Linked DNA regions of Homo sapiens. The protein of the gene in region 1 interacts with the protein of each later gene in a biochemical or structural test. Each region holds a gene or a part of one and is shown on either strand. Other genes may lie near its edges.

Region 1 (3,500 bases):
ACTTTCATATCAAAATTCACCTTCACTACAAAAGCAAACAGATTTGTAAAACACTATTCATATTTTCCTGTTCAGTACATTCCCCCGCTACAAAATGTCTAAAAACCATTAAGAGGATCTTTAAAGGCTATCCCCATATTATATGTACCTTACTTGACTGCTTCAGTTGCTTTTTATCAATAAAATAAATTCAAATTTGAAGCCAATGTGAATTAATTTCTCTCTTATACGTATTTCTTACACACTAATAATTCCCAAGTCCCTGAAGTAATCACAAAAAAACCCCACATTTTTTCTTTATTCTTATCAATTATCCTGGTAGTAAAATAATACAAATTATAATCACACTGTAGGGACAGCTGTGTATCTTGAGACAAGTGCCATAACAAATAATCAAATAAAAAAATCATTATTTAAGTACTTTCGGGCTTAGTCTCAACCTGCAGAGTAAGGAGCAACATCCATATATTGATACAAAAAAAAAAAGAAAAAAGAAAAAAAGAAAGAAACCCCCCAAAAAGAAAGCAATATTGTCACATTAATAACAATCTTTTAAGCAAATTAATAGCTGTGTCCCTCTCTTAATCTCTGAAATCTGCTATTAATCGACTCTCACCTTTTCAGAAAAGATCTACTCTTTGGGCCTCTGTGAGTTTACACCTGAAAATTCTCCTGCCTTTCTGACTGCTCCCTTCTATGGCAACTCCTCAATTCACCTACTCGCATCCCAGTCTAGAAACTATTCTAAAAGAGATTACTGAGAAGCTCCTAATAAACCTCCCTTATTTCATCACCACCCAAAAAACCAACACCAAAAAAAATCCTCCAAAATACTGCATTTATACAGGCCCCCAGTGCCTGTCTCACCTATTTGCCTAGTTCTTAAGACCCTTCAAAAAAAACACCCTCTCACCTCAGAAGTTTCCTAAAAACCCATAAACTACATTTATCATTTTCCTGACCTTTATTCATGTTGCTTCTCCTACCTGAAAATCCTTTCCTTACCTGTGAACCTGCTTAAACCCTACTCCGTTTCCTTCATGATAAATACCCATGTAGTCCACCCACTCATTTATCCACTTCTCAAATTCTTACATCTTTCTCACTGTATAGTTTTGCACACCAATATCTAATTGTTTAACACGTGTTATTCTTGCCTCCTCGATTAGGAATACTGGAAACTGTAAGGTAGGGACCAAGACTTACACTTATTTTGCAAACCCACAATGCCCGGCATTACTGTTGGCCAAGTGGAACAGCTAACTTTGCACTTTCTCAATTTAGCTTCATAAACTGCAACTGGGCAAATAATTTCTCCTGTTAATATAAATTCCTGTTTTCCTCTAACCCAAAAGTTTTAGTGTCAAAAATGTATTTTAAATAATTCTGGTATTAAAGGATAATACCAGAAACACTGGGATCAATATGAAATGTAGTCCCCTACTTGTTCATGTCTCTAGCCCCTATATAAAAACACATGCTGAGTGGTACTCACTTGATACTGTCTGCGCAACTGAAGTAGCAGTTGTTGTGGTAGAAGTGGTAGAGGAAGGGGTGGATGATGATGTTGAAGTGGATACTGCAGGTGCTGGGCTACTGGTCGTAGGGGTGGAAGCTCCAACTGCTTGTGCTTGCACTTGTGCCTGGACCTGGGCCTGGACCTGAGCCTGGGCCTGGGCCTGAGCTTGTGCCTGAGCCTGAGCCTGGGCCTGGGCTTGGGCTTGGGCCTGGGCCTGGGCCTGGGCCTGGGCCTGGGCCTGAGCCTGAGCCTGGGCCTGAGCTTGTGCCTGGGCCTGAGCCTGCGCCTGGGCCTGAGCCTGCGCCTGGGCCTGAGCCTGAACCTGTGCCTGGGCTGCAAGCATAGGTGTCAGTTCTGATTGCTGAATAACCTTAACTCCATCTGGCTTGGTCCATGCAGATTCACGTGTCCGAGCATTATAATAATAAACCTGCAGCGGAAGCAAAAATCAATGGTATCATAAAATCTGTCAGTTATTATTAAAAACAAGAATGGAACCATATTTTATCTTTAAAGCTATTTAAAAATAACGTAGGGCCAGGCGTGGTGGCTCATTCCTGTAATCCCAGCACTTTGGGAGGCAGAGGCAGGTGGATCACTTAAAGTCAGGAGTTCAAGACCAACCAGCCTGGCCAAAATGGTGAAACCCCATCTCTACTAAAAATATAAAAAAATTAGCCAGGTGTGGTGGCCGGCATCTGTAATCCCAGCTACTCGGGAGGCTGAGGCAAAACAATCACTTGAACCCAGGAAGTGGAGGCTGCAGTGCGCCGAGATCATACCACTGCACTCCAGCCTGGGTGACAGAGGGAGACTCCATCTCAAAAATAAAAAATAGCTGGGCGCGGTGGCTCACACCTGTAATCCCAGCACTTTGGGAGGCTGAAGTGAGCAGATCACCTGAGGTCAGGAGTTTGAGACCAACCTGGCCAACATGGTAAAACCCTGTCTCTACTAAAAATACAAAAATTTAGCTAGACGTGATGGCAGGCGCCTGTAATCCCAGCTACTTGGGAGGCTGAGGAAGGAGAATCACTTGAACCCGGGAGGCGGAGGTTGCAGTGAACCAAAGATCGCACCACTGCACTCCAGGCTGGGTGACAGCACGAGACTCCATCTCAAAAATAAAAAAATAAAAAATAAAATAAAATAAAATAACTTAGGGCCAGGCACAGTGGCTCACGCCTGTAATCCCAGCACTATGGGAGGCCAAGGCGGGTGGGATTACCTGAGGTCAAGAGTTCGAGACCAGCCTGGCCAACATGGTGAAACCCTGTCTCTATTAAAAATACAAAAATTAGCCGAGCATGATGGCAGGTGCCTGTAACTCCAGCTACTCAGGAGGCTGAGGCAGGAGAATTGCTTGAATCCAGGAGGCAGAGGTTGCAGTGAACCAACATTGCACTACTGCTCTCTAGCCTGGGCGACAGGGTGAAACTTCCATCTCAAAAAACAAAAACAAAACAACAAAAATAGGTAATTCCACCCCACAGCCCAATTTTCTATAATGAGCACAAAGGAAAACCCATGTTATGTTTTATGCAGAAATTCAACATAACAGACCTGAGACAGCTATCTGTAGAAAGCCCTGCTGACCCTTATCTGGAGTCCAAGAACTTGGATTTCAGGAGGGTTGACATTCCCTTACTGATAAGAATGGCTCGATGTGCCTAAACCAGCTACGCTGAACACCTGCTTTCCTTCTAGGAGCCTGGAATTTGGTATGTGCTAGGCAGATGGTACCAATGTGACCAGAAGCTTCCAGAATCACAGGTAAATGTGTGTTAGCACTCCAGGCAACCTTATATCTGCTGCACAAAAACTAAATCCAGTCAGCTTCTCCTGAAGTCTTACCCCATTCCCTGCTCACCCAGGGCTCATTCTTAAATGACAGTATCACTGACCTCAATCTGCCAGAACTCTTTAAGTTTTACTCCTCTGTCAACAAATGACAACTTAAATATATTTTATTATTTACCTT
Region 2 (3,500 bases), about 11 Mb from region 1:
ATTAGAAAGGAAAAAGTAAAACTATTCCTATTTGCAGATAACATAGTCTTGTTATAGAAAATCCAAGAAAAATCCACTAAAAACTATTGAAAGTCATAAACAAGTTCAGCAAGTTTGTAGGATACAATATCAGCATATAAAAATCAGTAGTATCTCTATATACCAGCAATGCACAATATGAAAATAAAATGGAGAAAACAGTTCTATTTATAGTAGCATCAAAAATAATACAATACTTAGAAATAAACTTAACAAAATAAGTACAAAACATACACTCTGAAAGCAATAAAACCTTGTTGAAAATATTAAAGACCTAAATAAATAAAAAGATATCCCATGTCCATAGGTTGGAAGGCTTAATATTGTTAACACGGCAATACTGCCCAAACTAACCTACAGATTCAACATAATCTCTATGAAAATCTCATCTGGTTTCTTTGCAGAAATTGACAAGCTGATCCTAAAATTCATATGGAAATTCAAGGGACTCACTCAGGATAATCAAGACAATCTTGGGGGTGGGAGGAACTGAACAAAAATGGAAGACTCACACTTCCTGATTTCAAAACATACTCAAAACTACAGTAATCAAAATTGTGTGGTGTTACCATGAAGACAATGAACAATGATTAAATTAATGGAATTGAACTGAGAATCCAGAAATAAATCCTCACATTTATGGTCAATTGACAAGAGATGTAGAAAGAATATTCTTTTCAACAAATGATTCTAGGACAACTGGATACCCACATGCAAAATTTGTTTTATGGTGTGAGGTATAAATAATGTAATATATAATAAATTAACTCAAAATGGATCAAAGATCTATGTAAGAGCTAAAACTATAAAACTCATAAGAGTACATCTTTGTGACCTTGAATTATGTAATAACAACAAAAACACAAGCAACAAAATAAAAAATAAACTAAACATCAAAATAAAAAAAATTGTGCTTCAAAGGACGCCATCAAGAAAGTAAGTCCACAGAATAGAAGAAAATATTTGCAAATCATGTATTTGCTAAGTATATAAAATATGTAAATAATTCTTGGCTGGGCACAGTGGCTCATGCCTGTAATCCTAGTACTTTGGGAGGTTGATGGGAGAATCGCTTAAGCCAGGAGTTCAAGACCAGCCTGGGCAACAGAGTGATACCCTGTTTCTACAAAAAAATTTTTTTAAATAAAAATAAATTTAAAAAATGAATTCTTAAAACTCATTAATAAAGAGAACCTGATTTTAAAAATAGGCAAGGAACAGATTTTTCTCCAAAGATATACACATAGCCAATAAGCACACAGAAAGATTAATAACCTTAGTTATTAGGGAAATGCAAATCGATACCACTTCACACCCACTAGGATGGCTATAATGAAAAGGACAGACAATAACAAGTGTTGGCAAGGATGTGGAGAAACTGAGAATACCGTTGCTAATGGGAATGTAAGATGGTGCCGCAACTTTGGAAAATCGATTGGTATTTCCTCAAATTTTTAAACACACAGTTACCATTTGACCCAGCAATTCTACTCCTAGGCATACACCCAAGAGAAATGAAAATACAGGTCCACACAAAAACTTGTACATGGATGTTCATGGCACCATTATTTGTAATAGCTAAAAAGCAGAACTAACATATGCATCAACTGATAAATAAAAAATTGTATAGCCACATGGAGTATTTTTCAGCCATAAAAAGTAATTAAGTACTGATATTGATACAACATGAATAAACTTTGACAATATTATGCTAAGTGAAAGAAGCGAATCATTAAAGACCCCGTATTGTATTGTTCCATTTATTAAACATGCCCAGAATAGGCAAATCTATGGTTGCCAAGGGGTGGGGTTGGGGGAAATAGGTGGTGGTGCTAAAGGCCATGAGATTTCTTTTTGGGGTGCTAAAATGCTCTAAAACTGACTACGATTATGGGTTGTACAACTCTGTGAATATATTAAAAACCACTGAACGGTTTTTTTTTTTTTTTTTTTTACACAGAGTTTCACTCTTGTTCCCCAGGCTGGAGTGCAATGGCATGATCTCACTCACTGCAACCTCTGCCGGGTTCAAACGATTCTCCTGCCTCAGCCTCCCGAGTAGCTGGAATTACAGGCACCTGCCACCATGCCTGGCTAATTTTTGTATTTTCAGTAGAGACAGGGTTTTGCCATGTTGGCCAGGCTGGTCTCAAACTCCTGACCTCAGGTGATCCACCCACCTTGACCTCCCAAAGTGCTGGGGTTACAGACATGAGCCACCATGCCTGCCCTGAACTATATTTTTTAAATGAGTGAATTGTACAGTATGCAAACTATATTTCAATAAAGCTGCTACCAAAAGTTAGTATTTTTATAACTACTTTTTGGGAAACTTTGAGTGTAACATAAGCAGAAGGGGTACAAAGAGAGCTGGGGGTAGAGTAGGAGCTTGGGGAGTTTGGGGACTGTAAATGATGCCCCTACAAGCAGAGGCTGTGGAGAGCAAAAACCAACGGGGATAGCAGGGGAGGAAAAGAGTAATAGATACAACCATACCACCCCACAGAGCAGCCCCCTAAACTGCAGGGGTGAACTAGACCATACAGGGCAGGCCCAGCTAGCTTGTTTGTTCCCTCCCCCTGCCCCTGCCTGTTTTGGTTTCTCTGCCATCTGTCAGGTCCTGGGGCTGCCCCACCCTGGAGTAAAGACTTCTCAGATAATATTAACTGAGGAGTAATAATATTACTGCCTGTGAGGTGGGTGGGGTGATAGGTTCTGAGGTTTAGAATGAGAACAAGAAGGGAGCCTAGCTCTCTTTCTACTGATGAGGAAACCAAGGCTCAGAAAAGAGAAGGGACTTGTGCAAGGTCACTGGGCTAGTTAGGGGTGGAGCTAGGGTTAACACTGCACTTCCTGAGAAGACAAGGGACTGCAATAGAATAACTCATATGACACAGAGCTTTAAAAGAAAAGGACAGGGCCAGGCACAGTGGCTCGTGCCTGTAATCCCAGCACTTTGGGAGGCCGAGGCAGGTGGATCACCTGAGATCAGGAGTTCAAGACCAGCCTGACCAACATGGTGAAACCCCATTTCCACTAAAATTAAAAAATTACCCAGGTGTCATAGCACACGCCTGTAATCCCAGCTACTCGGGAGGCTGAGGCAGGAGAATCGCTTGAACCTGGGAGGCAGAGGTTGCAGTGAGCTGAGATCACGCCACTGCACTCCAGCTTGGGGAACAAGAGTGAAACTCCATCTCAAAATAAATAAATAGATAAATAAAAAGACAAGTATTGCAACAAAAATTCTGCAGCGAAATGAAAAGCCCTCTAAGAAAGGAAATATAATCAAAGGACTTTACTTGGCTGTCTGTGATCATCATTTATATATATTAATAATGTAGACACTTTAAACCTGATTTAGGTTAAAATAGAGCTCTTCCTATCTTGAGAGACGGGGGCAGGGGAGGGAGGGAGATGGTGTAAGAAAGTGAAATCTCCATCCATCACAGCAGGAAGTA

What was found. Proteins that work in one complex are often made in the same cells at the same time.
Region 2: the proteins of TCERG1 (region 1) and CYFIP2 form a complex in vitro, tested with the Homo sapiens proteins (one study listed by BioGRID).

The regions. Positions count from the first base shown.
Region 1 is NC_000005.10:146,457,333-146,460,832, reverse strand, and holds part of TCERG1 (transcription elongation regulator 1), read right to left. Parts: coding exon 3,498-3,500; intron 1,950-3,497; coding exon 1,496-1,949; intron 1-1,495. UniProt on the Homo sapiens protein: Transcription factor that binds RNA polymerase II and inhibits the elongation of transcripts from target promoters. Regulates transcription elongation in a TATA box-dependent manner.
Region 2 is NC_000005.10:157,272,623-157,276,122, reverse strand, and holds part of CYFIP2 (cytoplasmic FMR1-interacting protein 2), read right to left. Parts: intron 1-3,500. UniProt on the Homo sapiens protein: Involved in T-cell adhesion and p53/TP53-dependent induction of apoptosis. Does not bind RNA. As component of the WAVE1 complex, required for BDNF-NTRK2 endocytic trafficking and signaling from early endosomes.